3 linked regions of the Homo sapiens genome follow. The protein of the gene in region 3 interacts with the protein of the main gene of each other region in a biochemical or structural test. Each region holds a gene or a part of one and is shown on either strand. Other genes may lie near its edges.

Evidence for each region.
Region 1: the proteins of PEX5L (region 3) and HCN4 interact in a biophysical measurement, tested with the Homo sapiens proteins (one study listed by IntAct).
Region 2: the proteins of PEX5L (region 3) and HCN1 form a complex in vitro, tested with the Homo sapiens proteins (one study listed by BioGRID).

What each region holds. Positions count from the first base shown.
Region 1 is NC_000015.10:73,336,973-73,347,162, forward strand, and holds part of HCN4 (potassium/sodium hyperpolarization-activated cyclic nucleotide-gated channel 4), read right to left. Parts: intron 8,213-10,190; exon of another isoform or gene 8,084-8,212; intron 6,837-8,083; coding exon 6,413-6,836; exon of another isoform or gene 6,298-6,412; intron 5,524-6,297; exon of another isoform or gene 5,341-5,523; intron 4,094-5,340; exon of another isoform or gene 4,041-4,093; intron 1-4,040. UniProt on the Homo sapiens protein: Hyperpolarization-activated ion channel that are permeable to Na(+) and K(+) ions with very slow activation and inactivation. Exhibits higher selectivity for K(+) over Na(+) ions.
Region 2 is NC_000005.10:45,257,516-45,267,705, forward strand, and holds part of HCN1 (potassium/sodium hyperpolarization-activated cyclic nucleotide-gated channel 1), read right to left. Parts: intron 9,739-10,190; coding exon 9,574-9,738; intron 5,296-9,573; coding exon 4,406-5,295; 3' UTR 1-4,405. UniProt on the Homo sapiens protein: Hyperpolarization-activated ion channel that are permeable to sodium and potassium ions. Displays lower selectivity for K(+) over Na(+) ions.
Region 3 is NC_000003.12:180,031,825-180,042,423, forward strand, and holds the start of PEX5L (PEX5-related protein), read right to left. Parts: upstream 5,114-10,599; 5' UTR 4,776-5,113; coding exon 4,755-4,775; intron 1-4,754. UniProt on the Homo sapiens protein: Accessory subunit of hyperpolarization-activated cyclic nucleotide-gated (HCN) channels, regulating their cell-surface expression and cyclic nucleotide dependence.

The sequences.
Region 1 (10,190 bases), on a different chromosome or scaffold from region 3:
AGCCATCTCTGGCCACAGCGGCCTTCCTTCATGTCCTTGAATGCCCCAGGCCAGTTCGTGCTTGCCCCAGGCCCTCAGTACTGGGCTTGCTCTTCCATCTGCCTGCGTGCTGCCTCCAGCTCCTTCTTGTCATCCTGTCTTGGCTCAAAAGCCACTTCCATGGAAAGGAAGGACACTGGATCCCTGTGTGTGACACAGCCAAGGGCTCTCCCTTCCCATTCTCACTGTGACTCTTTGCCCTGATGAATTTCCTTCCTGGAGTTCTCACTATCTGAAATGACATTCACTGACTTGCGTGCTGCTGCACGAGGCAGGGCTCCTCTCTACTTCTCACTTCTGTGTTCCTCCATGCTTAGCACAAGCAGGCATCAAAAATATCTGCTGATTGCCTGAATAAATGCGCGTACATCTAAATGAATGAGTGGGTACCATATGGGAGCTCAAGGAAGCCTCCGGGCATGGCTAGAAAGAGTCCCAGACTGTCACAGGCCACAGTAACTGCTCCTTTGGACAGATCACGCTGGGCCTTAAAGACAGAGCATCGAAGGTGGCATGTTTTCCTGCAATGACCTCCTTTCCTTCTGTATCGCCTTTATCTTTTCATTACTCCTTTTCTTCTAAGATCAGGTCCTTGTCTAATTGTGCCTTTATCGTGATCTCAGCAATGAACACGGCACAGAGCATGTGGTAAGGTTTCAGGAACTGAGAAGGGCTTCGTGATGAAGGTGAAGGCAATGGTGACAGTGACGAGAATGGTGGTCAGCAGGGCTCCTGCTAGTGTAGACAGTGGAAGAACAAAAAGGTACCCGCTCTGGGCAGATGCAGCCCACAGGGAACCTACCCTTGTCCCTGTGGGAAGAACCAAGGTGCCTTCTCCTGCAGGGGACACAGACTTCCGTGTCCTACTGAGAGCATGGTGGTGGTGAAGCCTGGAACTGCGGTGAGGAGGACTGTGGGCACTGGGGTGGTGGGTGCAGGTGGCAGGGCTGGAGAGGTGTGTTTCAGGTGGTTTTTAGACACCACAAAGCTGGAGCGCCAACAACGCACAGTCTGAGCTGCCTGGGAAGAGCTGGTGGGGGCACATCCATTCAGGTTAGGGGGTGCCCTAGATTTGAGGACACTCACCTCACCTGCACCACTCTCCAGCACCTGGGAAGTGGTTGCCGAGAACAAGGCTGGACGTTGCTGGGAGAGGCTGCTAAACACTGGTGTGTCCCCACTGTTGGCTGGGGCCACAGGCCACCGGAGAGTCAGTTGCACCAGGCAAATATTTGCCTTGCTCTTTATATTTCATTAGAACTCCCTCTTACGATGTTGGTTCTGACTGCAGGGGTTGAGCACCTTCATTTCCAGGCCACTACAAGCCTTGCCCGTCAGGCGGTCCAGGCAGCTCACTCTGCCACACATGGAACTTGGGGAAGCCCTGCTCTCACTCCTTCTGCAGTTTCTCAACTGCAGTGCAAGGACAGAGCCACTGCCTTTTCCACCCCGAGCCTCAGTTTCCTCATCTGTGGAATGGGTAATTGCCAGATCTCAGGGCTATCATGGGGGTCAGGTGAGATCATATCCACCACTAGCACATGGTAGGCACTCAGGACATGTTGGTTCCTTTCCTTCCCTCTCTTTCCCAGCCCTCCCAACAAAGAGTTGATTTCTCAGTCCCAAGGAGAGGCCAGAAATTGGAGGTCTGGCTGCTGCTGTTTCCACCAAGGCCTCTTCCTGGGGCCTGATTGAATCCTCTCCTGTGGATTCATTTTCTCCTCATGGAAGAACAACTTCCACCTGTGTCTCAAGAACAAGTGTCTGCGTTGAAGACAGCAACCCCAGGCCTGGCAGAACAGGCTGCTGCATATGCATGCTGGGTGCAGTTTGAAGGCAGCTGCACTGAGGGTCATGCCGGGTCCCATCCTGGGTGCAGGAGACAGGGCCAGTACCCACGCCCCAGGACCTCTCCTTGTGTCATCTCCACTTCTCGCAGATGCCAAGCACCTGATTCTGAGATGAGGCAATCAAGGTCTACAGGATGAGGGGACTCATCAGAGGCCACACAGCAGCCCCAGCTGGCCTTCTGCCTCCAGCCCCTCTTTGGCCACTTCAGGCTGCCAAGGGAGAGGAGAGACTTCTGGGATGGGTCACTGGAGTGCTGAGCCTTGCAGGGTAACGTCCAAAGAAGGGTAACCATGGTTTCTAACAATAGCCTCCATGCCTGGAACAAGCTCACACCTCGGAGGGAGGGAGGAGGCATGGCTGGAGAGGCTCGGGAGGGAGTCTGCTGACCCAGATCGCCCAGGATGGAGGCAAGAGGCTTGCATCCTCCAAGATGGTGGCCCACCTGCGCTGACTCACAAGACTGCCTGACTGCCACCAACACTTAGGAGATCTCCTGGGGGCCTGGTCTGGGCCCGGCTGGGGGAGGCAGTAGAAGCCTGGGGTCAGGAGTCTAGCTTCTTGCAGTGCCAGGCAGCCTGGGGCAAGCTTTCCCCAGTCTGTGGGAGGCAAGCTCCCTAGCCCCAACCGAGGGCATCCTCCTTCACGTTCCGTGAGCTACAACAAGGTCTTCAGAATCAGCTAACATAAACCTTGCCAAGGCAGATGGGAGCTGGGGACTGGGCCCCAGGGAGCCACAGCTTCAGAGAACATCATTATGTGCCTCACAAGTGGGGAAACTGAGGCCCAAAGGAGGAAAGAGACTCATAGAGGGACTTGAAAGAGGAGATTAGGGCAGGGTTTTCTGTACTAAATACTCTCCTCAGCTCTCATGTGGACCTAGGGCTCCAAAGGGTCTTTCTGCTGCTGCCTCTGGGCCAAGCAGAGGTGGGAGAAGCCCCCGGGCTGGAGTGGCCTGCTATGGTCCTGGAGACAGGGTTCCTGGGGCCAGCTGGGAAACCCCAGTCCAATCTCAGGGGTCCAGTGAGAGCCCTAGGCTGGCCAGTGTGCCCGGCAGAAACTAGCTCAAAGCAATTTTCTTCCCAGCTGGTAGGAGAGATAAAGGTTTGTGTGTGGAAGGGTGAGAGTCATCCATCTGGCCTCCTGGGATCTTCTTCCTCCCCACGAGATGGGGCGGCACGTCTAGTTCAGAGGCCTGACTCAAGGCCTCCTGGGGCCTCTGCCTCCCCCAGAGAAAGGCCAGGACCAGCGCCTGACCAGTTCTGGGTGCCCAAGAGGGTGGCCTGGCCAGGGTGGCAGTGGGGACAGGAGCCCTGGGCCTGAGCTCCCAGGATGCATAATGTGGGGACGTGAAAGACAAGCTTAGCTCCAACCCACGACTCACCCTGTCCAGCCACTGGCATCTCTGCCAACTCCTACAAAAGACCACAGCCCTCAGGCCCTGGAGGAGTAAGGTCAGCCCCTGGGAGGCTGAGGCCTGGAGACACGAATGGATGCTGGAGGAGGGAAAGAGCTGGCGTGTCTCTGCTTTTCATGGCAGTCTAGCTGTGGGTCCAAGACATGCAGAAGGTTGGGGGTTTCTCAGGGTCTGAGGGAGCCAACCTGGTCCTACATTTCCACCTGCGACGGAAACCAGGAGACAAGTGTGTCAGAGCATGAGGGGAAACACGCCTCCATCTTTCCTTCACAGCCCCTCAGAGTGGACCCAGCCGCACCCTCCAGAGTCACTGTCCCCTCTCAGCCCTCAGCTCAGACCACCTGCCACATCTCTGCACATCTCTGTCTCACAGGCACCTCCAACTCAACCTGTTGCACAGATCTCCTCCCCTGCCACTGCCCTCCCACTCTCTGCCAACAGTCGTCCTAGTCCTTTGATCCCAGCGCCCACCCAGGCCAGCACAGGTGGGTGCCCGGCAAGCACTTGCTGGACTGAATGAAGTCCAGTCCCCCATGGAGGGGCCCCAGCCATGAAAGGAAACAATCGTAGAATCAAAGTCATTCCCTTTCCATCTGAGAAGGCGGGAAGTGCATGGAACAGGAAGACAGGAGGCCTAGGCCAAAAGCCCTACCACTGGGGCGGCTGGCCTTTCTGATCTTCAGTTTCCTCACTTGACACATGAGGATCATAAATCTTGCCCTGTTTCTCTTGACAGCTAAGTATGGGGAACCAAGGAAATGTTACTAAGACAACTTGGTGGGGAGGGAGGTAGGTGTGTGTGTGTGTGTGTGTGTGTGTGTGTGTGTATAAATATATATATATTATAAATATAAATAACATCTATTTATTTATTTTTTTGAGACGGAGTTTCACTCTTGTTGCCCAGGCTGGAGTACAGTGGTGCGATCTTGGCTCACTCTGCAACCTCTGCCTCCTGGGTTCAAGCAATTCTCTTATTTCAGCCTCCCGAGTAGCTGGGATTACAGGCGCCCACCACCACGCCTGGCTAATTTTTTGTATTTTTAGTAGAGACGGGGTTTCACCACGTTGGCCAGGCTGGTTTTGAACTCCTGGCCTCAAGCAATCCACCCATCTCGGCCTCCCAAAGTGCTAGGATTACAGGCGTGAGCCACCGCGCCCGGCCAGGAGGGACACATATTAAACAGTTCTTCTGCACCAGGCTTCATGCTAAGGCTTTATAAACATCAGGTACAACTTATACCTATTTTGCAGATAAAGAGACTGAGGCACAGAGAGGCAAAGTGGACCCAAAGCTACATGCTAGGCAGTGTGGAGCCGGGATTTTAACTTGGGTCTTAAATGCGCCATTCCACTACACCGGGGTGGGACAGCCCACACTATGTGCTGGGGGCCAAGAGGGCTAGCTGGATTCTGTCCCAGTTCTACCAGAGGTCTAACTGCATGACCTTGGGAGAGTCACGGCCCCTCTCTGTCAGCATAAGTAATGTGAATTTTCCAAGCCAAAGAGAATTTCTGCCATGGAGGGACGCTGCCAAACTGGTGCACACACTTCTCCTATGGCACATGCGTTCATGACGCCTCTGACCATCAGCCATAGGTGCTGCCAGTCGAGGCCCAGGCTGCTGCTGGGGGTGAGCATGGGGGGCTTCATGTCCTGAACATGGGAACTTCTGCCAGGCAAGCAGGGGGTCCTGGAGGCTGGGAAGTCAGCCACGCGGCACAGGGATGGAGCGGGAAATGGCCCTCCATGGAAGCTTGTCCCGCCCACAGGTGGCAGGGATCCAAGGTGGGCTGTCTCACAGAGAGAGTAGGCCCTCCAGGCTGGCCTGCCTGCCGCTGCTGCCAAGTTGTGTAACTTGGGTGGGTGGCAGACACAGACCGAAGCACTTGGCAAGGTCAGCTGCTCTTCCTCCCAGCAAAGCCCTTAGCTCCTCTGCTGCAGATGACTGCTTCAGCCCATGGATGAGTGAGGTTTGTTCACAATGCAGTTGGTCCGCCCAGTTCTTTTTCAATGTTTTATTTTCCTCCTGTAGCCAGTGTTCACAGCCCCTAGGATCCCTTTACAGTTTCTGAGCACAAGACTCCAACTTGCCCGCGTGATTTCACTCTCTACAGCCAGCGGCCGCACCTTTTGTCAGAGGCCTGCCCGGGCTGCTGGAAACTGCTTTGGCTGTGAGTGCTGAGGGCTGGCAGTGCCTTGAACCAATGACTGACAGGTAAGGGGATATAAACATTCCAACTCCCTTGCCCTGACTGGGACAACTCCAAGGTGTGGCGCACACTATCCTCAGATCCCATAGGGCTGAGGCAAACAGCCATCCACAGGACACCCTCCAATGTCCAACCATTGCTTGGCTTCCTGCCTTTCCCTGTCCCTCTCCCCAGTCCCCTTACCAGATTTTCCTGGGAATGCATCCCCAAAACATCCCTTTCATGCAAATCTTTGTCTCAGGTTCTGCTCAGGAAGAACCCAAACTAAGAGAGTTGCCAACAAAATTTGTATAAAAATCCAGATTTCCATTTCTCATAATGCTATAGATCTAGCAACCCTGGGCCCATTCCCACTTGACAAAAATTAGCTGGAGCTGCATAGAGGCCACCCAATATAACGGAGATGTTCTCTAGTTCTTCTCATCCACCACACTGTCTACTGTCCCCCAACTGGCCCTTTTCACCCATCCCTATTCCCTGCCTGTCCCCAACAAGTTTATGGGTTTACAAACCCTACAACATAACGCAGTGGTTAATAATGTGGGCTCTAGAGGTGATCGGCTTAAGTTCACATTCCAGGTTCACAAATTACTAATCATGCAACCTTGTATAAGTCACTTAATATTTCTGTCTGTTTCTTCAGGTGAAAAATGAGTATATACATGTACCTATATGGTTCCCTCTATAGCTGTTACACACTTCATTGAGATACTGCATGTAAAGTATCCAGCACATGATAAGAGGTCAAGAACTTACTAGTATTTGTCCTCTTGGAGCAGGTGTGCCTGCCACAATCTGACAGCCTATGTTCAATTATCTGAGGTTCCCTGCCAGTTCCTCACTCCCTCTGTGGGGAGTGGCCTTTCCCCCAAGAGGTTTGCACTGACCACTTACCTCTTCCCACTGGTGAATATATCGAATGAGGCGGGAGAGGCGTAACAGGCGTAAGAGGCTGAGGATCTTCGTGAAGCGGACAATGCGCAGGGCCCGGGCAGTCTTGTAGACCTCCGAGTCGATGCGTGTCTCCACAATGAGGAAGATGTAGTCCACGGGGATGGAGGAAATGAAATCTACCATGAACCAGCTTTTCAGGTACTTCATTTTAATCCGCTGCGGGTCCAGGATGATCTCTGTGTTGTCCTCCACCACGATCCCTGTGCGGAAGTTGAGGACCAAGTCGATGAGGAAGAATGTGTCTGACACCACATTGAAGACAATCCAGGGTGTGGTGTTCTCATCCTTGAAGAAGGTGATGCCCACAGGAATGATAATCAGGTTTCCCACCATCAGCAGCAGCATGGTCAGGTCCCAGTAAAATCTGCCCAGAGACACAGGGGTCAGTCGCCAGGAAGAGAGAGAGGACAAGTTACAGACTAAGGGAGGAAGATCTGAGGGACAGCATCTGGGACAGAGAAGTCTTGGGAGGTTCTGAGACAGGAAGACAGGCACATGGGTACCAGGGCAAGATGTGGAGATTGGCACAGGGAATGACACAATAAGAGGCTCTTCATTCACTAAGGATACCCTCCGTGCTGCCCTTCTGTGAGTTTCCCCGAGCCCCAACAACAAGCTTCCTCCTCCCATCCCCAGCCCGCAGTAAGAGTCAGGCTGAAAAGCAAATCAGTGACACTCAGAGAGAAGCAAGAGGCTGTTTTAGCAAAAGGAGCAGCTCACCCCACACCACCCCAGGCTCAGGCTAGGCTGCCCCATCCTCCCTGAGGGTCAGCTGTGGCTTGAGATGGGCTGTCAGGGAGACATTCCACAGACCATGACCAAAGAGCAGGGGAGGTACAGACATGACTCAGGTGCCTGGAAGGCAGGAGGCCCAGGCTCCGGCCCCAGCTTTGTCATCAACATGCTATGTGACATCCGGAAGGGCCTCCCTATTCTGGGCCTCAGTTTCCTCACTGTGTAATGAGTCCTATCATTCTGATCTGGCCCTCTCCCAAACTGGTTCTCTGGCATCCACCTTTAGTCCATCCCCTATAATCAGAAAATGTCTGACCATCTCCTTCCCTCAGAGGTTTGCATCCTAACATGGGGGTGTGGAGGGGGAGAGATAGCTTCAAAACAAGAATAATTAATGGGGGGATTTCAGGCACCAGTGAGATACCACTCAATGTGATAGAAAGAGACCAGCCCAGGGCTTCCAGAATCATTTCTCCTAAGGCCTCAGGCACCTTCAAGTCGTTTGTAGAGGGAGCCTCAGGGCAAAGCCTTGGAGAAGTTGAGCAGCATGAGGAGGAGGCACAACACCAACTCACAGGTCTGTGGTGGGTTTCTCCCAACTCACCAAGCAGGGGGCCTTCTGGAGTGTGGAAACAACACAGGTGGCCAAGACCCCAATCCAGAAGGCATGGCCAGTTATTCCCAGGGACCCTGCCCAAGCACCAGCCATCCCAGGGCTGGCCCCAAGACCAAAAACTTGCACTGCAGAGCTGTTTCCCTCTGCTATTAATTTAGACATTTACACAATAACAGATAAAGGTATTAAGTGAGGCAGAAATAAGCATGTCTTCTCCCAGGAGAAATAACCTTTCCACCATCTTTGATTCTTTACTGCAGGGAAGCCAGGAGGAAGGAAGTGGGAAAGAAAGAGATAAGCTTTCCTCGAGTCTTCAGAGGGTCTCACTGTAAACCAAAGTGCCCCTGCCTGCAGAGTTCCAGGTTGCAAAGAAATTACTTCATAGCAAATTGTTTGTTTGTTTGCCAGACTCAAAATGGGGCTGTGATTCAAGGAGAGGGTAGGGCCTGTTTTGCTGAAGGTGGGTGAGATGGCTGTCCTACATCACACTGTGTGGCAAAGGGCAGTTTCCAGAGAGTCAGCTTTCTGCAGCTCCTTTGAAAGCCAAGCTCTTCAGGGCCTCAAGACAGGGCCTTATGGGGGATAAGGCCGGATGCCAAGAGGCCAACTTCAGCTCCTCTCTACCCCATGACCCACCACTCCTTCCTGTGGCCCCAGTACCCATATGCCAGCTGAGAGAACCCAACTAAGGCCTGAGGACCCATCCTCAGCTTCACACTTTACTACAAAGAATGCAGCACACCTGCTAATGAGTCATGGGCCCCAGGAGGATGGTTTCAGCATCTATGGGGTGCCCTAGAGCCGTGCATGCTCTACCCAGCCACATAGACCTCACTCAAAGACAGCTGTGTACACTCATTAGATGCCACACGCAGGTATCCCCATTCACACACACAGTGCACAAACACCCCTCTATACACTCTGCTGTCATCCCTCTTCATTTAATCTCCTGGGAAAAACAAAAGAAAACAAATTTTTTAACTGTGCATAGAAAGGCCACTGAGGGCTATGTGGCCCTCTGTACATAAAGCTAATAATACACCCAGGCTGGAGGAGTTTCTAAAATTAACAGAGCGGGTGCAAGGCGGCTGGGAATGCTGACTCGGGCGGGCCTGCCACTCCAACGGGTTTCTACACTCTCCCCAGCTCTAGTTCCCTCAATTACAGTCCAAATTTGAGAGAGTAATTAACAGGAGAATGTTTGCATTTTGTGGTCTTCATAAAACCAAATTGCATAAGGCAAAAACACCCATTTCCTCGCACTCTGACTAATGGTTTCAATCTTGAGCTTCCAGATGCTCAGGGATATTTCCAGCACTCGATCTGGGCTGGGGTCGGGATCCTGGATCATTCTTTCCCACAAACCACTACCCTGGAACATCACAGAGCTGCTGGAGAGACAGTATAATATGGTGGGAGGAGGGATGGGCCTGAAGTCAGGGTTCGATTCCTGCTCCATGGTTTACTAGCAAGTCACTTTACCATGCCACACCTCAGTTTTGTTATCTGCTCAATGAGGATAACCACAGTACCTGACTAGCAGCACTGTCATAAGGAGGAAATCAATTGATTTCTGTCAAATGCTCTGACCTATGCCCAGCTACATTATGAAATGAGTAAATAAATCATCAAAATCAATAAATTTGCAGGAAAGAGGTAAGAGGGAGGATCAAATCTCCCAGAGAAGAGCCAAAGCAAAACATCTGCTGGGAGTGGGATCACAGAGGAGCCTGTAATAGACCCAGGAAAGCCAGTAGCAGGAGGTCCCTCCAGCAATCAGATGACAGACCTATTTGCCTCAGTACACAGATGCCCTCACCTCCAGAGACTCATGGTCTGGTCAGAGCGCAAGGCTTGGATAGAAGGCAATTGGCAATGGTGTAAGAAACCATCCCTATGAGCCCAGGTATCCGTAAAAAGCCCAGGTATCCATAAAAATGGGATCCCGGTGGCCTAGAAGGGTGAGGCCGGGAAACTGCTTCTGGAGGAGGTGAGAGGAGTTGGGTTTTGGGAACTGCCGTTGGCTTCTGGACTACCTTTCCTTACTCCTTGCCAGATGCTTGCACAGGTCTCCGAAAGCCAGGCCCTGCCAGAGCTAGATATGACGTTCAGCACCACGGACAGCGCCCAGCACACCTGCCAGCCCCGTTCAGTGGGTTTAGCCAGGGGAAGGTGGCAACAGCTTCTACACTGGCATCCTCAGCTTGCTGGCCCCTCTTCATTTCCAATCCTGCTGGTCGAAGCATCTCAAGTGATGCCTTAATATCTCTGAGCATTTTTACTGGGGCTCCTTGGTGACTGAAAAGTCTTTATTCATAAAGACCCCAAAACACTTCACATGTATAGAGAACTTACTTGGGTTTTCCA
Region 2 (10,190 bases), on a different chromosome or scaffold from region 3:
GTGGGATGCGGGGAGTGTCAGCAAGGCTTCTCTCATTAAAAAACCTTAAAATCTCCATTTGTCCCTGTCAAAGCCTGAATTGGAAGCAGGGTCAGCATTAGGGTGAGACAAGAGATGCAGGGTTGTGCAAGTGCAGGGTTGTTAAAAAGGAAAAAAATTGAAATTGCTTAAGAAAGTCATTGCTTTTGAGGGGTAATAGCAGGTGTACTTCCCTAAGTACAATAGCAAATCTTTCAAAGAAAATTTCTATCCTATTTTTCCTTGAAAATAACCATATTGAATACAGTTATAGAACTGTATTTTATTTATTTGTATGTGCTACAATTTGGTGCATGCAGCAACCACAGTTCCTTAAATTTTTGGCCATTGTTTTCAGGACTCAAAATAGCTCAGCATTCCATTCTATAAGGCCCATGTTTCTTTCCCATGGTACAGTATGAGTACTTTTTAAAGTAGGTGAACATAAAATAAAAGTTTGCTAGTTGTAGTGCATATGAACAAAATAACCACATGGGTTTTATGGCACATGTTCTAAAAAGATAAAGATATAATGGAGAGATATCTCATTCAAACAGGTTAACATTATAAACAGTGCAAGTGAGGGCCATAGAAGCAAAGTAACATAGTAAAATTAACAAATATAAAAACCTAAGCTGAAAGAGGAGGTATGGAGATTTTTTAAATAGTCCTGAAAGATAATAGAGATTGCTCATAATTTGAAGTAGACATAATTCAGGATTTGAAATAAATCATCTAAAATTTTAAACATGTCATATTGTTTAAATCATTCTCTGTCCTATAGGAATGACGGTAATAACTTGACTATGTACTTTGTAGTGTCCTGAAAATAGTATGCTCAGTTAAGTTTATAAATTGCAAAATAACCATCTCTTTAAAGTGGAACAGCATTCATCAGGGAATTGTTCACTTATGAAGAGGTCATCCAGACCTGGAGACAAGCTACTTTTTTGGTGAATAGAATATATTGCCATTGCTACTATTTATCCTCCTTGTTTTCAGGAATGCTTCACTACTTATTCTCATTATGATAAACTCTATCTCAGGCTTTTAGGTATCATTTAAAACCCACTTGTGTGGGGAGGTTCTATCACTCTCCAAATAACTTTGCAGGGCCCAAGGCTATAAATATGAATATATTTATACAAACCTATTTTGTTATAATAGGGCCTTGGGCCTACTATACAAACCTATTTTGTTTAAGGCTATAAATATGAATGTATTTATATAAACCTGTTTTGTTATAATAGAGCCCAAGGCCCTATTATAACAAAATAGGTATGTTATAAAACTATTATAACAAAATAGGTATGTCATAGAACTATTATAACAAAATAGGTTTGTATAAATATATTACAGGACAATTATTTACCATTATTACAGGAAAATTATTTCTCATCTGTATATCCAATAATTACACAAAATGGTTGTGTTTTGAAGTTGGAGAACAACCACATTCTAAAAAGGCACAGAGCAAAAAAGAAAATAAGCTCATATTTTACTATACGAAAAAGGTAAACAAAGAAGTGGTTGAAAAATCCATGTTCTATTTAAAGTCCTCTCATTCCAGAATTATAGAATATAATTGATTTTATGTGATTATCAAGTATAAGCTCTTGGAAATTTTATGATGTAAAAATAGAGGCAAAGCTGTACTCATTAATAAAATAAAACATTTGATTAGCATATATTGATAAAATAAAATATTCATGATTGTAGTTTATTTTTTGTTGAATTTATTAATAATCTTTATATATATTTATATATGTATGGCTTTGAGCAAAGACAAAAGAAATACTCTAACTCATCCCTGATCATACAGTTGTTGTAAGAATCAGCTATTCTATTATCTTTCCAGCAGCAGAAAGACCAATGAATAATACATTTCTTTCTGTACAGATTAAAACTCCATACATACGGGCTTCACTATGTACAGAGAAAAGAGGTCACTTTTCAACTAGCAATGGACCTTTATATTACAGGAATGTGAGTCATTTTTTTTTCTTAATCTAAGTATATATACATTCATACATATATGTATATAATTTACCCTGTACCTTTTTATTAGTTTAATATATAAACCTTAGTTTTTTTGTCCATTCTATTACAAAGTGAATAAAAATTGTATGGTTGCACTGAAAGACCATGCATTTCAATTTTGCTTATGTTTCCCAATAGTGCTCAAAATAAAAAACCAAAAATTTATATATATAAAAATATTTCACTACCAAATCCATTAATCCTATCAAATGTAAACCTTTAATAATTTAAAGGACCAATACGTAATCTTAATAAATTGAAGTTAATTCTCATATTTTAATAAAATAAAGGAGTTTTGTACTGATATGTAAATGGTCTTGCAGCTTTCCCATAGGTTCTAGGTAGACTGAACAATCCCTTTCTTACAACAGTATTCCTGACATGCCATCATATGTCACCAGCATATTGATGATTACATTACATCGACTAGCAGTTAATTACTTCCACACCAGTTGGGATTTGTTTGAAATTAAACATAACAACTCATTTTGGTATTATAGGTATTATATCCACAAAAGGCATAACAGGCAGCAAGGATCCACTTTAGAGTTTCTGCTTTTGTTTTTGTTTTCTGTCCTCAAGTCTATCTGCAGGCCCTGTCCCACATAATGTGTGATCTCTGTATGTTCTTAAATGTATTGCCAGTGCCAGAGATACTGAAGACCTCCACTTTAAGTCATGCTCTTAACTTGGGTTATTTACCGCAGCCAGTTGTTAGGAATCTTTCAATTGTGTTCCAGTCATACTCCACATGTGTGGGATGCATTAGGCACAAATGATTACTAAGGGAGTTCTTTGAGAAGAAGCAGGTGCTCACAGATCATGTAAAGAGTTAAGAAAACAGACAGACAATGCTCATAGACGTTCAACTTTACCCCTGCTTTCTGTCACCATGTCTGTACTATTTTCAACACATTAAAAATGACAAACCTCCTATCTAAGGGCTACGTTAGTCACCACATGCCTTAAAGTTTACTAACCATTTAGTTACAATATACATAGAGCAAAATGTGTGTTCCCAAACAGACGTGATGCTGTATTGAATTTATTTCTTTAAATTAATACCATAGTAAATTACCAGCTACAGTGAAGACACAGACAACACTTAACTCCAAATCAAGCTGTGGTTTACAAATAATTATTTAAATAATAATAGCAATAATATTAAATAAAAGTGAAAACCTCACTTCTAGACTTAAGTCAGAGATCCAAGTCAGCCTTATAGGAATTATAAGATAGGCAATTAATGAATTGTTATGCTTTTCTAGAAACGAGAAATACTGTAAGCCTTTCTCTACAATGACTGATTTGAACCTATTTTTTTTTCCCCAGAAGCATGCAGGGACTATTTTCAGATGCTTGATTATGGCAAGAAGAAAGAAAAGTAACGATTTTTGGTGTAATACAAGCAATTTGTAGATTCGAGCATACAATTTTGCATAAAACATTGCAGGTTAAAATAATATTGTAGGTTTCAAGCCATTGCATTACAATTGAATAATTCTCACAATCAGGTTTTGTAAAATTTAAAACTCTAAGTTTTGAAGTGAAGCAATAAAACTAAATTCTTAAACAATGACTTTTACCTTCATACAACACAGAATAGCTATTTTTATTTGGGTTGAAAAAGTTATTTACAACTAACATTGATCGAGTCTTGGTAAAAGTCCGATAACACATGAAGACAAATATTAATTTTCCCTCAGCTTTCTGAAAGATCAATGAACATGTTTGAGGTTAGTGATATTCTTAACAAACAGTGGCAATGCTAGTCTCCTACGGTGGCCAAGCAAGTAGTGCATTCTTTAACCTAATTTGAAATTGAAAGCACCGAAATACAATTTAGATCTATAAAATGGGATTTGTTATTTAATTCTCCACCATTAATGATTAACAATTTAGATGCAGAGACACAGCTAATGAAAGAAAGTTTTGATTGGTGCTATTTACTAGTTCATTTGAGTTGCCTTTTTAAAATCAGTTTTGTTTCCATTGAATCCAAGAACTCTTCATAAAATAGAGAAATATACATATCAAAGGACTTAAGTAAAAGTAGGTTAGAAATAAATAATCTTACAACGACATTTTAAATCCTTTAATGATTTAAAGAAAGGAAGACATATAACACTGAATGCTAAACAGGTCTTTTGACCCTCTCTTGGGAATTTAGATATATATTTTATAGTATATGTATATATATTTTTACATTTCACGTGTAGGCCACAGCTGTCTAAAATATCTCTTCATAGTAGGCTAGAGGGATCTATCAGGAGATAGAATAAAATAAGATCTGAGTATAGTCTCAGTTTATGAGAGTATTTCTTTCTGCTTTGACAATCAGCAGGGATCATAAATTTGAAGCAAATCGTGGCTTTTCTGCGTCTGGGTCTGTGTTTAAGACTGAGGAAGATTCTCTTGGAAGAGCAGCTGCTGGTGGAGGGGGTGCTGGAGGGACTCCTCGGTTCGGGGGGATGGCTCCCGACGACATCTGTCGGAAGAGGGTGACGCGCTGCGGGACAGTGCTCCTGCCCCCTGCCTGAAGGCCCGTTCCGGGGACCGCCGTCACGGGTTGAGGGATGGAGGCCAGGGACTCGCCCACAGTGGGATGAGGTCTGGAAATCAGAGTGGACACCTCATGGGGCAGCGAGGGCTGCGAGGCGGAGAGTGGCCTGACTTCCCGGGTCAGGTTGGTGTTGTGAAGCGCCTGCGTGCTCTTGTGCACTTCATTTTTCGGCGTGGAGCTGCCAGGTGTCTGTGGCTGCGGGGACGGCTGCTGTGGCTGAGTCTGCGGCGGCTGGGACTGCTGTACCTGCTGCTGCGGCTGCTGTTGCATGAGTGACAGCTGGGAGGCGGTGGGGGAGGCATAGTGGAAAGTTCGAGCGGCCAGAGGGCTCTGTACAGGAGGGCTGCAGACCGCGGTGGTGTAGGAGCAGGGTGACAGGATGGCTGATGGCTGGGGGGTCTGTGTGCTGGGACTGGGGGAGTGCAGGTTGCTGTGAGACAGGCTGGTCGCTGTGTACACCGGTGGAGATTGTGTCCTCATGCGGGAGGTCGGGGTCGTAGTAGACGATGTGGAATTCAGGGTTGTCATTTGAGGATAATTGATGGGAGCGATTGCCTGCACCATCTCCCTGTCATGTTTCACAATCTGCTTGAGGATTTCGTTCTCCTGATTGTTGAAAACACCAGTGTTCAGATCCTTCTGGAACTTTTGCAGAAGAATTGAATTTTTCTTTCCTGTCAGCAAAAGAAAGATAGGCACTTAGAAAGCCTACCAATGACTGATGACAACGCCAAGTGAGAGTGGCTCCTGCAAACAGAAGTATAGCTGTGCTTCACAGGAGAGGCTTAAAAAGCCAGTCACTCACCTTTACACACCAAATACCAATGTGGCTCCTACCTTTCACACTTCCTGTATTTCTCTGGGAACTCTTACCTTCTACTCAAGTTGAACGGCCTGTAATATGGCAAAGAGCCACTTTACAGAAGAAATGGAGATATTTAACATGAGGGCCACCTTGAAGAATGGGGGAAGAAAGGGCTTTTGGAATAGGATGGGCTTGGAATCAACATTTGATTTTAAAGTTACTTTTTCAAGAAAGGACCATGGAGACATAAGCGAGAACATTTGAACACGTACTATGTGATAAGCACTCTACAAAAGACCTTAGGTAGATGATTTTATGTAACCCGCGACCCTGTCAGATAGGTGTGTTCATAATCTCATTTTACCTGAAAGGAGATCAGGACATGAGAAGACTAAGAACAGTGCCCAGGAAAACAAAAAAAAAACATGGTTGGCAGGTAACAGGGCTGAGAAAGACCATATACACAAAAAAGTGATTGCACATCCTTGCTATGGAAAATGAACCAACTGCCCCTGTCTCATCTGTGTGCTTGCTAGAAACTCAGCCTCCTGGGCCTGACCCCACTTGCTGAATCAGATGTTGCATTTTACTAAGATCCCCAGGTGATTCCCAAATGCAAATCTGAGGAGGACTGTATCAGGTTTTGCTTTTGACCCAGTGTCTTACACCAGTCATTCTCAGTCCTAGTTGGATATTTTTCTTATCTCTGGAGCTTTAAAAAATACTAACATCCACTTGTTCCCTACCAATTAAATCTAAATAATCATACATGGGCTCTGAATTTCAGTAGTTTAAAAGCAAATTTCCCCAGGAAATTCTTTTTTTAAAATTTATTATTTATTTATTTTATTTTATTTATTTATTTTTTTGAGACGGAGTCTCGCTCTGATGCCCAGGCTGGAGTTGCAGTGGCACCATCCCAGCTCACTGCAAGCTCTGCCTCCCGGGTTCATGCCATTCTCCTGCCTTAGCCTCCTGAGTAGCTGGGACTACAGGTGCCCGCCACCGTGCCCGGTTAATTTTTTGTATTTTTAGTAGAGATGGGGTTTCACCATGTTAGCCAGGATGGTCTCCATCTCATGACCTTGTGATCCACCCGCCTCGGCCTCCCAAAGTGCTGGGATTACAGGCGTGAGCCACCACGCCCAGCTTCCCCAGGGAATTCTTAAATGCAGCCAAGACTGAGACTGACTTTATGATCTTTCCTCTTCTGAATGGTTGTTGTGAGGACCAAGGGCATAGTGCATTGCAGGCTCTCAGCTCCCTCTAAGACCTCAATAAATTTTACCTTTTCCTGCCATCATCTTCTGAGTGGTTTGCAATACAGCTTTTCCTGCCATCATCTTCTGAGTGGTTTGCAATACTAGACAGTCTCTGGCATAATAATTATTAGAATGAATAGTGGATTGGTGAAAGAAGGGGAAAGTAGTGACTTTTCTATGGCATCATTGATACACTAATCTCCAAGTGAATATGGTAACTGAAAAGTGAATCAATTTGCGATATTGCTAAATAAACTAACACATTAAAGGTAACAAAATATATTTTTGAAGATAAATATGTATTGTAATTTCATTGACTGCTAGGAATGCAATCATTTTAAATGACTGCCAAAATAGTTACCTCTCCCTACTTACAGACTGTCCTAATTTCCCAAAGAACAAAAACTCCTACATTAGTAATAAATATAAATGCTTATTTAGCATATTTGCTTAACTAACTGCAGCATACATCTATATGCAATGGCCACAAAACCGAGAAGCATAATGTTTCTTTCTGATTATGTGAACAGTCAAAATATCTTAATCTAAGTATCTTTAACCTTGGGAAAAATAATGTAACTTTTAATACACTCTTACTATGTTATAAAGATCAAAAATTCAATTGCTTAGTGCCTATTAGAAATTGCATTGCCTGTATTGATTACGAACCATTTCATGTAAATATTGTTATAAAAATTAACTGCAGGCTGGGCGCGGTGGCTCATGCCTGTAATTCCAGCACTGTGGGAGGCTGAGATGGGTGGATCATGAGGTTAGGAGGTCAAGACCGTCCTGGCCAACATGGTGAAACCCCGTCTCTACTAAAAATACAAAATATTAGCAGGGCGTGGCAGTGCACACCTGCAGTCCCAGCTACTCAGGAGGCTGAGGCAGGAGAATTGCTTGAACCTGGGAGGCGGAGGCTGCAGTGAGCCGAGATCACACCACTGCACTCCAGCCTGGGCAACAGAGCAAGATTCTGTCTTAAAAAAAAAAAAAAATTAACTGCAATAAGTTAGATGAAAGTGAAGCTGTATCAGATTAACAGAAATTATCTAGTGAAATATCCTGATTTTAATGTTTTCTCTAAGGATGTCTAGCTGGTTTAGGAAGAAACTCATTGCTTAGAAATTAGTCTCTGTCTCTAACATAAACACTCACACACTACAAAGAGGGAAGTTATTTTCCAATTAAGTAAGGATGCCTTCAGGAGTGCCTACTTCTTTTGTGGGTATTGTCTCCCTGAATGAGTAGGTCTTGTTAAATCTCTAAGATTTCAATATGAATTTCTAATACGTTTGTTATATCTAATGATGATGTCCAAATACTGCCTTTACTTCTAATCTATTTTCAGATCTCTATGCAGTCTGCTGTCCTACTAATATAGAGAGAAAGGAAGATGTGAATGTGAAGTGCAGAAAAAAAGCCAACATAACAATTTATCAATCTGAAGTCCTTACCTTTAATAAGAATGAAGCAGTTGAGGTACCTCCTTGTTTATCACAAGTGATCCCAGCCCCATCTTTTTTGAGTTCATTTATTCCTTCCTCCCTTCCTACCTCTCTTCAACAAATATTCATTGTATACTAGGTACTGTGAATGTAATGGTGAATTAAACATGAGCTCTACATTGACAAATTTAGCATCTCTAGAGCCAGTAATAAAAGCAGTGCTGTGATGGGGGAGCTTCAGAGGCTATAGGAGAATGCATCCAAGGAACTGGGCTTAGTAGGGAGTGGGAGGTCAGAGAAGGTTTCTAGAGGGAGGTGATATCTAAACAGAGAGAGGAAGGTTGAGCAGAGTCGAGCTGACCAAAAAAAAGTAGAGAAGGGGAGGGTGGCAAAGAGGGTTTAGGTGTGGAAAATGAATGCATACTACCTTACAACATAATGTTCCAGGATATCTAGGAATGTTAACAGCAAGCCAATCCAAGCTAACTTTACTATGGCAATTATGCAAATCTTCAAACTAGCATAACTAATAAGGCCTAATGGTTGTATATATATATTTTTTTATTTGGTAGCAGAAAAGACTTTAAAATATGTTGATGTTTGCGAGGTAAAGCATCTATGTAGGGCATTACTATCAAGGCTTTTTTTTTCTGCTTGAGTCTATATTACAAACATTTTATTATGTCTCTGCTGAGATTAATTTAAATGTGCAAATTTTCAATTCCTAATATAAAGATAAAATGTAAAGTTGATCCAAAAATACAAAAAAAGTGATAAAACTTAGTTTGTAATATAGACTCATATATCATATTTTTAGTTCTATTTCAATGCTATCTAGAATTTTTATCATTGCTTTTTACCTGAAGATTCAAATTGTTTTGGCATCAGTCGGGAAATCAGTTTGTTTAGCTAGCAAAAATAGACATTAATAAATAAACCCAGAATACTTAGAAGAGATAGATAGGGACCCAGATCTCTCAAGAAATACGGCTACAGCTAATTGCTATTTCTACACAAATTAACAAGCAAGCTATAAACTGGCATGTGGGATTTTTTTTTTTTTTTTTTCTCTGAGACAAGGTTTCACTCTCTCTCCCAGACGGGAGTGCAGTGGTACCATCTTGGTTCAGGGCAACCTCCACCTCCCAGGCTCAAGAGATTCTCCTGCCTCAGCCTTCTGAGTGGCTGGGATTACAGGTGCACGCCACCACACCCGGCTAATTTTTGTATTTTTAGTAGAGACAGGGTTTCACCATGTTGGCCAGGCTGGTCTCGAACTCCTGACCTCAAATGATCCACCTGCCTTGGCCTCCCAAAGTGATGGGATTACAGGCATGAGTCACCACTCCCCACTGCATTTGGGACTTATAATTGCAAACCTGTATTATGCCAGGAGATTAAATTTTATATAAAGAAGGTAGAAAACTAGAGTACCTATTCGATCTAGTCGGTCAATGGCAACTGTCTCAAAGGCTCTCCTCATCATTGGATATTCCTCCAGGACCTCGTTGAAATTGTCCACGGAAAGTGAGTAAAGACGACAATATGTATCAGCTCGAACACTGGCAGTACGACGTCCTTTGGTCAGCAGGCAAATCTCTATAAAAACAAACAACAAAGAAGAATGACTTGTTTGATCATTTTCTTTTAAAAGCCATTAAGGCTTCCCACAACTTAAAACAAGTCTCATGGTGTGAAAAAACAATTATTAGCAGCATTTTCTATTATATCAGCAAATTCCTTCTGACAAAAATATCCGACTGCCAATACTCAATCTTAAAATAATGTTTTTTTGTTTTGTTTTGTTTTAAAAAAAAAAAAAACAGTTGAGAAGGCCAGGCGCAGTGGCTCACGCCTGTAATCCCAGCACTTTGGGAGGCCGAGGTGGGTGAATCACGAGGTCAAGAGATCGAGACCATCCTGGCTAACATGGTGAAACCCCGTCTCTACTAAAAATACAAAAATTAGCTGGGCTTGGTGGCAGGCGCCTGTAGTCCCAGCTACTCGGGAGGCTGAGGCAGGAGAATCACTTGAACCTGGGAGGCAGAGGT
Region 3 (10,599 bases):
TTCAAAATTGTAGAGTTAACAAGTTGTGTTTTAACCTTTTCTTATTCTTTACTTTAAAAAATGTTTTATAATAAAAACATTTATATGATGAAATTTTTACTTTCAAACACATGTTTTTAGGAGGAATATTTATAAACCACAAATAAAATCTACAAAGACTATATTGTGTTTCTTATAGTAAGTATATAAACTATTGGCCAGTATGGCTGGGGAATGAGATTTTCAGATTAATCAAGTATTCTGCTAATGCATACCACAACTATTATAACTTTCAAGTGTTAAAAGCTCAACACTACATCCATACCAAACATGATTTGCATGTGAATATACAGGAAGACACTTCAGAATCTTGCTGGAGCTTGTGTCATAATTTTGATCAACAGCTTAAATGTACATGAATTTGCTTCAACAGAGTTCTAGTTAATATTTCATCATACTTATGCTCATCATTACCTATAAGATGACATTTGAGGAAGAAGACCAGGTGCCACTTGAACTGAGATAACAAAGGGGGAGAGGAAGGCAGCAGCAACCACTGACCAAAACAACACAACAAACCCCAGCACTGCTCACTCTCCTGAAAATGCCACCCCCGTTCCAACTCTAAACTAATCTCAAAGACTCGCCTCTGAAAATGTGTGTATGTGTGTGCGTGCAGGTGGTTTATTGCTATTAGTCATATCTTTGCTAGCAGTTAATGCCTTAGCAAAGGGTTAAGAAAGAAAGAACACAGGATGGAAAAGGGTGAGCCGGGAGCTGCGGTTCATGCCTGTAATCCTAGCACTGTGGGAGGCAAAGGCGCGTGGATCGCTTCAACTCAGGAGTTCAAGACCAGCCTGGACAACATGGTGAAACCCTGTCTCTACAAAAAATACAAAAATTATCTGGGCATGGTGGCATGCACCTGTAGTCCCAGCTACTTGGGAGACTGAGGTGGGAGAATTGCTTGAGCCAGGGAGGCATAGCAAGCAGTGAGCCGAGATTGGGCCACTGCACTCTAGCCTGGGGGACAGAGAAAGACCCTGTCTCAAGAATTAAAAAAGGTGGTACCAGGAGGGAAAAAAGTGGATCTGTTAGAGAGGTGGAAGTACCCATGATAAATATCATCTGCTTTACAGTTTTGCTGAGGGCCTCAATTATGATAACCTACTGTTTAGGGTATTGAAAACAACGTTCTACAGTCTTACCTTCAATTGGTTTCTTATGTATTTTGTTTCTAGTGAACCTAAATAAATCACCAGGGGCGAGATCTAATGTACTAACATAACTTAAATTACCTAAGCTATTCCCCTTTGTAGAGATTTTAAGAAAAATCTTAAGTAAAGTCATATAGAAAAACAAATGCAAAACTCCCCTGGGGGAAAACAAATGGCTACTTTTTGGGCTGTTAATAATCTTACAATTTTTGTCATTTAAATTTTCCTTAGTTTATGTCTTGTGAAGCTAGAGGGTGTGGAATGATTCCCCAGACAGCTTGAATAAGTCAAAAAGTCTGCTTTGAATGCCTAAAATAAAGATCAGTTACAATTACAAATAGATTTTTTGTTTGATTGCCTTCTGAAATAACTTTCTTTTATTAAAAAACCCATTGCTGTGGATTCTTCAATAACAATTCAAAAAATCTTAGTAGAAAATTGAAATTATATTTCTCTGTATTTATACCACCCCAGAAATAAAACAGCTAGGTTAAGAAAACATTGAGAGACATGTAATAATTTCCTCTAACTGGAAATGTTAACTCAAATGCACATAGGCAAATAATCACCTCAGCCCTGAACATACAGAGGTATTGGTGGAATTAAGACCATAGGCCCTCAATGAGCAACAGAGTTTTGTCAGAACCGATGCTAAAGTATATTCAATCATCATCAGTGCCCTTGGTCAAAAGAAAAAAATAAGTAAATCTAAAACAGTCACAAAAGAAGCAACCTTTGCTTCATTTACTGGGGTGACTAACTCCCCTTGGAAATAATTGGTAAGGCAGCTGGATAAAAACATAGCTCCAGGACCCTGCTCCTAAGAAATATACCTGCGGCTTTTACTATGAAACCAAGAAATATCTGTTACTCTATGCTCTATCTGTAATAGATGCCAACTTTTATTTTCTAATGAACTAGCAGAGCAAACCAAATGTGTGTTTTTAAAAGTCTGCGGTTTCTAAAATGAATTCAGATTCTACCATAAACCAGATGAATTAGCCATATGTATGAGAATTAATAGACTTTATCTGCAAAATCATTAAGTTGCAAAAACAAAGGCACCACAGGAGTTTTAAATTAGACTATTTTTAAGTCTTCCTGAGAACACCTGCCCCTACTTCAAACTGCTAATTTACAAAGCACTTTATTTTAAAGTCTCTTGGATACAGAAAAGAGAAGAATTAGAATGCATAGCAAAAGATTGCAAACATTTCTGTTTCACTCTTGTTTTAAGGTATCAGTCAAGTAACATTATGTTTCAAATTAACTCCAAAGCTGGCAGAAATGTTAGTAAATCTGCTTATCCCTGGTCCACTTTACCAAATATGGATTCAGATTTTAATCATACACATTTTGGAGTGTTTGGAATGTGTTTCTTCTTATCTGTGATTAGAGTCAGGTACACACAGGAAGATGATAGTATCTCTGATAAGGAAACGTTATTTTGTCCATAGGCTAAATAATATTCTTTGGGGGAAGAGATATGAGTTTAAAATGTAAGCCAACAAGTATATTATGAATCAATCTGTCATAGGTATTTTTTTGTTGGGGGGAGCAGATGCCCATTCAGATCATCATACTATTGAATAACTACTAAACGTACCTACTAAGGCCTCGGAAGTTTTATGCTTAACATTAATGGTTAATAGTAAGTAGGAAAAAAGTATTATGCTCTGAAATTTTGGTGGATGTATTGATTACAGTCTTTATTTAGTAATGTTTTAATTTAAGCTTGGCAGCAAAGATTTGTGAGTTTTACTGCAAGTCATCATATTTGCTGTTACAGCAGTGCACAAGCAAAAGACATTAAGTTGGGAGAATATGCAGAGTCTTATATTTTGTTTATTCTTTCAAAGTGAAATTAAACCCTCAGACATTGTTCCAGGCAACTCAAGTTTCAATAACATTCTCCTTTGAGATATTGAGAAAATTGAGTTAAAATTGTTTTTGGGTGCATGAATTTACCATATTGTTGCTTCGATTCTTCATTCACAGTAACATATTTTTTAAGCAACAAAACAATACTGTGCAAAGTTTTTGTTAATTTCCCCTTAGTGGTCAATTGTCAATTTTGTGTAAATGAACAATTTTTTGAGGGTTGACTCTATTAAAATCTTCCTGTTTTACCCTTGTGAAGAAACTGTTTAAAAAACAGATAATATATAAAATTGTAAGTATCATTCTTGGGTGAAGATGAAGCATAAAACTATAGTAATAATTCTTTGTTAATTTTTTCAGCAGTCATTATTTGAATTCTTCTATGTTACTTAACTTTTCAATTGGTGTAGCTTTTATAAGAAACATGCAGATCACATTGATCATATATAATATTTAAAAATATACTTCATTCACTACTTTTTGTCTATCAAATGTGATATAATCACATTAATAATTTTCAAAACAGGATGATGTTAGTCATACGGGAAATCTTTTGGAATTCTGGCACTGTATATTGAGAATTCTTATAAAAATTGAGACTATGATGAAATATTGTGTTTTATTTAAAAATGGATTATAGTCCAAAAGAATTTCCCTAAGTTATGGAAATTAAATCTGGGTAGTACTAAGTCATAAATATAACAACATATTTATCTATTTCCAATTGCTCTAAAAGACACAGAAGCAAAATCCTCAGTATTCATAAATGTTATACACCAGGATAAAGGCATCACACATAATGATTGTATTTGACCATCTTTGGAATGGAAAGGAAGCCCAAACATCAAACCTGATGACTAAACCATTTAGGTGCGATAAAGAGTCCAGTTCATACTTTAGAAAGCTGAGTTAGTATTTTATTTTTCTCCCAAAGCATATATCTGCCTTTATAAGAACCAACCAACCGTATGAATGAGAACTGGAGTCAAGGTTAAAGTAATCTTGCCCAAGAGAGTAGAGTGTGTTTGCATCGGAAAGAAGCAGCGGCTCAGCTCAGATGAATATTAATAACAACCGGAGGCAGCACCTCCCCTGAAAAACATTAGAGCTCCTTGGACATGTGTTTGAAATTCATCCTCCCAAGTCATCCTGTGACTATTGGAGTAGATGGCAATGTCCCATAATGTGAAGGGGGAAAATACACTATAAATCGTTTTTTAAATATAACACTTTAAAAAATGAAACGAAAGTGACAGAGTGTTCTAAGTCAAGCAACCTTTTCAGATGGTAAAGGAAAAGCTTTGTCTTTCCTATTATTGTTTGCCCTTCAGTTGACATACATGCTGAGATGCATCAATAGGATTACAACGGAAACACGGTCATCTCTAGGGTTTCCTCTGTTTCGATTCCTTGATCCTGTTTAAAGAAACAGGCTCAGGGAATGCACAGAAAACAAACTTCCCCAATCGAAGTTCTGAGGTCTTCCCTCCCCTTCTCCCACCTTCGGAAACCGGTCTAGTTTTCCCGGCAGCACCGGACAGAAATGTCACGGTCATGTTGCATCACTTCACTTGTTGAGCTGTGCGAAGGCAGCACTTGACCACAGAAACTTGGTGAACCGCCTTGCTCTTAAATTAGCCCCCAAGAATTCTCTCCAGCCCTATAGAAATGTCTTACCTGCATGTGTCCCTGGTACATTCTGCTTCGGTTTCTTCAGGGCTCCCTGAGGCCACCGGATGCTTTTCCCCCGTGCTTACTTGCCCACCAAAAGAGGGGAAAAGGTGGGTGCACAGCGGGTTCTCAGAGGGTGCTCCTGAGCCCCCTGGAGCTCCGGGTACTCGGCCGGCCGGCGGCCACTCGGCAGCGCTGCGGGCTGCCGGGAACTGTTCTCCGCTCGGGGTGCTGAAAGCGGACGCGGGAGAGCGCGCAGAGAAGGCGAGGAGCCGGGTCGGCCAGGCTCTCCTGCAGGCGCGGGTCCTGCTCGCGGGGCGTCTCTAGAACTCACTCCTTCTTCGCCGAACTCTTTCTCGCTTCCTGCCAGGTTGCCTCATGTCTCTCTCTCTCTGAGCTGCGAACCCCCTCCTCCCAGCCCTGACGTGAGCGCCTACACCAGCCGCCGCCGCAGCTGCCGAGCGGGGCGCGCGCCGTTCTCCCAGCCGCGTGCCTGCCGAGAGGCCGCGGGACCGGGCACGCGCGCGCGTTCCCAGGGGCCTGGGAGCGGCCCGAGGGCGGCCCCGGGCGGTGCGCGCTCCCCGAGCGCGTCCTCGGGGCTGCGCGCGCGCGGCGGCAAGGCGAGGTGCCGGCAGGCGGTGGTCGCGCTGGTGTACAACGCCCGCAGCAGCGCGGCGTTCAGGTGCGGCGTCGGCGGGCAGGGCGATTCTAGCGGAGAGGATGGCCGGCCGGAAGAAAGGCGGGAAGACATGCATCGTCTCTCCGGGGGCCATCCACCGCGGCTGAGCCTGTTATCCTACAGACATTATAGGCTGAGTGCAGGGGTTGCCGAAGAGTTTACTTCGGTTCTGATTCAGCTCTCGAAAGTTACGTCCGTATCACCCGTTAAATAAAGACTCCCCGCTCCCCTCATCCCCAGTTCATCGCCGAGCATTCTATTTAAAACGGCAAACCCTAGTCCCTGAGGATCTGGCATGTTTTATTTTTTTCCCTAGCACGTAACATCACCTAACATCCTTTATATTTTCCATATTTATTTTATGTACTGTCTGTCTCTCCCTCTGTACAATGTTATTTCCATGAGATCAGGGACTTTTTTTTAGGGGGGTGGAGTGTTGCACTTGGTTTTGCACGTGTGTGCACAGTAAGGTATTTAGTACTTCCTGACACATGGCAGGCACACAATAAATATTTGCTGAATGAATAGACCTTTACTACTATACACTTACACACACATACACACATATATGAAGAGTGCATTTAAATATGTCTCAAGTTGAGACTGGGTAGTTTGATGTGTCTACACAATAAATGTTCATATATACACACACACCACGGGGTGGTGTATACTGTGATTACCTAATTTTGTTGGTAAAAACATCTCCAATTCTACAGGCCCCTCATATTATGTACAGCATGATATCCCCAAAATATTGCATATAGCATAATATGCTTTTTATAAAGTTTAAAAAATCCCTAGAAATGTCAATGTGTATTCATATATTCATATACAACAATATAAAAAGGAAAGCAGTGGAACAATGAATATAGTGTTCAGAGTGTTGGTGACCCTGGGTGAAGGGAGGCAGGGAAATAGATGGGGAAGCATTTCACTTGAAGTTTAGATGTTAATGTCTTATCTTCTATGCCGGGTAGTGATTCATAGGACACCTAATATCCTATTAAAAATTACTGTGTAACTAAATAAAATAGAACCATGTATGGACTAATGAGGAGAATGTGAAATGAACAAAAGGATGTGAAATGAACCAATTCAATGCATCTGAGGTCCTAAAACAACCAACCAAACAAACACAAAAGGACTAAGACCTGTAAGCAGGAGACATGGATTCCTATTAGATTCCACTAGTAGTTACCCTTGGACAATTTCCTTTTACTACTTTGGACATCAGTTTTTTCATGTCTAAACTCTGTATAAAAAACTTATTTTTTTTACCCTGAAAATAGAGATATGTTCATAAGCACTGTAAACTGTAAAATGTCATCCAGTTCTTATTTTATTGTTCTTTATAGGACAAAGCACAGGACTTGGAGTCAGCAACAAGAGGTGCTAGTTCCATCTCACTACCTCAATGCTCTCTTGGGCAAGTGTACCAACTCTCTATTTCCTCAATTTTGAAATAAGACAAATATCTACCTAGTGTGCTGCACAGAGCTGCTGAGGACTGAATGTATGCAAAGGAAGTTGTAAATTACCAACCATGATATATGAATATGCAAACAGACTTTTTTTTCCCAGTTCAGAAAAGATGAGGACTGATTTTCTGAGACCTCAAGTACTGCAGATTTTAAAATGGTACTAATTATCATATAATACTATCATGTTATATAAAAACTGGGAAAAGTATAGTGCTTTGATTTAAAAGTACTAGAAATCTGTGAAGTAACAATAGGGTCAAAGTTTTCCAATCCATTATATGCTTGTTATTATCTAACGGCAGGTTCAAGGAGCCAACAACCATAAAAGCATTTGGATCAGAATGGCAACTGCCTAGTGTTGAAGCTAGAACTCAATATATTCTCTTCTTAAACCTGAGTCACTGATTTCGTTACTGCCTACATTCTCAAAATCTCAGGAGTGAAAGCTTTCCTTTGTGAAGAATTCCTCTTCACACTTATTCCTTCTGTTAGAAGATAAACTAAGGCACATTAAAATTTTAAAGGGTTTTTTGAGCAAATAGCCATTCATGCATCAGGCAGCAGCAGACCGAAAGCAGTTGGGGACTCTGTCGGAAGTCGTTAAAGGGAAAGATTTTATAGGGTAAATGTGGAAGCAGAGCAAAGAAATTATTTGGTTAAAGAGGAATACTGGATTTATTTGGATCATTCTAATGGAAAGTCCATAGTTAGAGGTTAGTTTGTGGTTTCTGATTGGTTAAGCTTAACTTTCACTTTCCTAGACTATTTCTTAGACTAGGAATGAGATTTGAATTATCTTTATTTTCCTCAGAAACAATGCATGTCTAATAAGCTAGGTCCAGAAAAATATTTTACAAAAGATTTATTTTGTAATTAAATTTGAAGACCCTTGTTACTCAAAACGTGGTGTGTGGACCAGCAACATCAGCATGTCCTGGGAGCTTGTAAGAAATGCAGACTCTTGGGTGCCATTTCTGACCTACTGAATTAGAATATGCGTTTCAACAAGATCCCCAGGTGCTTGTATGCACCATAAAATTTGACCAGCACTGTGGCCTAGAAGGTTTATTTATTCATGTAAATATGTGGCAAAGCTAGCTCTTGCCTTTTGCAGTGATAACACATGAGCAACCTCAGTACCACTAGAGAAGAAGAATGCATATTGCACTCCATTTATAAAATAATCTCACTGTATTTTGAGTGGTCAGTGGACTTGGCATAAAATCATAGCACATTCAGCTTTCTTACAGCAAGAAATGTGCTTAGTACCACTGCAATTTTAATCACTGTAATACAATTAAATAATTGAGAGGTAGCAGTAGAATCTATTTTGTATTGACAAAATTTAATTTTGCTTATTAGTAAGCGAATCCTCCTGCATTTCAAATGGGTATTGAAAATTCAGGATTTATTAAATCTTTGAAAAAACTTAGTAAAAATGATGAGGTTAGTGTTCTTGTGGACTTAAAAATCAGAGATAAGAGTCTTTTGATGATTCAATCATTCTTTCATAATCTGTAGAATTCAAACTCTGGTGCTGAAAGATGGTGCAGGAGAGAACAAAAGTCAAAATAATTGTAGACCAAAATTAAAATGACTAATTGGTATTTGTTGTTCAATCAGAAGGAGGAACATTTTGTTAAAGTTTGCCCACTTACCCTTTTTGTCTCTTCGACACATAGAATGAGATTAGCTGGTGTTTCAGGGCATTTGATCTGGAAAAAATTTGGGAACCCCAGGCTGCCAGGAAGAATTATGAATAATAAGAGTATGTGGACTCTGATGACGAGGAGATGGCAGCAATGTTCTTCCAAATGAACAAACAAGCTGGATGCTTCAGAGCTGGGCCTCCTATTAAACCAATTTAAGAAATTACACTATATTTGTTTACTCTTTAGGACAATGTTTTTTCAGTGATCCAATATTGCTTTTAATATTAAGTGTACTTTCTAGAGTTTCTTATTCCTGGTGAGAAAACATTTGTGAACAAAAATATTTCTTGCTTTTGACTACTCCTTTCTACTGTTGCCACTGCCATCCTAGCCCAGATTCCCTAAACCTCTTATCACTTAAAGCTAGTTTTATCACCTCCGTTCATCTCCTACATCAACCTGTCATATACATCGCAGCCAGATTAATTTTATAAAGGTCAGCATTAATCACAATGCTGCTCAGGTCAGAAATCTTTAGTGGCTTTCCATTGCCCACTAATGTCCCAAAACTTCAGCTTTTTATTCACAGTCATGGAATATCGTTTGCTGCCCAGAGCAACATCCTCTTCTAGTGGCAGGAAGCCTCTTTTCTCAAGGCTCTTTGCTTTGAATAACCATCTCTTCCTCACTCTGGTCCACTTGTGTGGTAGGAAACATTTTACTACCAGGCTTTGGGGTTGCAACATAGCACCCAGGCTGAGCCAACCAGTGCATTCCGTCCCCATTGGTCACAGTTGGAGATGGGCATATTACCCACGTCAGTCAATCAGGGAAATGAACTCAGCTCCAGGACTACTCGGGAGCAGATTGATTCTTCCTCTGGACTGGATGTTCTACTGATGTTAGCTTGGAACTGCCAGAATCCAGCACACCAACTCTGAAAAGAAAACCAACCTGGGGGAATAATAATCCAGGCAGGCTCCAGGAGACAAAATTTGAGCCACTAAATAAACCACACTTAAAAGCTAGTCTAAAGTAATCTTTATTTCAGCTAGTGCCATCTCTTTTCTGGTTTACTGGATTTTTGGTCACTTGCAACCAAAAGAATACTTATGAATACAGTGGCTTTCCATAGACTGACCCTGTCTTTTTTCAGTTCTGTATGTTCTCTACCTTTTGCAATAACCCTGCTTTTTAATTATTCCCCAAAGTCAGCCCAAGTTATACTCATACTCTTGCCTCTTCTTGGAATGTACTCTCTCTCCCCACTCCTCTTGAATAAAAGCTCATTCATTTATCAAATTTGGTTTCCAATTCCATTTCCTTCCTGAAGCCTTTCTTCATCCTCTAACTGAATACTTCTCTTTGCTGGGAACTTCTTTATGATACGCCAAATGACATTTTTTTAAATTATAGTTTTTCTTTTTTTGTTGTTTTGGAGACAAACAACAAACTGCCGTCTATTGTTTAGACGGCAGTGCGGTGGCATGATCATAGTTCACTGTAGCCTCAAACTCCTTGGCTCAAGTGATCTTCCTGCCTCAGCTTCCTGAGTTGCTGAAACTACAGGCATGCACCACCATGCCTGGCTAATTTTTTTAAAAACCTTTTTTGTAGAGTTAGGGTCTTTTTATGTTGCTCAGGGTAGTCTTGAATTCCTGGCCTCAAGGGAGCCTTGTGACTCATCCTCCCAAAGTGCTGGAATTACAGGTGTGAGCCACTACACCAGGCCCCCAAAATTTTTCTTTTGTTTAGTTATTTCTGTGCTTTTTAACTCTCTATTAGACGTAGGCAGATGTAGAGACAAGAACCTTGTTTTATTCCTTTTTATTCTTAAATAACTTATGAATCATGTATGCAGAAATACCGCCCAAGGTAATTTATAGATTCAATGCCATCCCCATCAAGCTACCAATGACTTTCTTCACAGAATTGGAAAAAACTACTTTAAAGTTCATATGGAACCAAAAAAGAGCCCGCATCGCCAAGTCAATCCTAAGTCAAAAGAACAAAGCTGGAGGCATCACACTACCTGACTT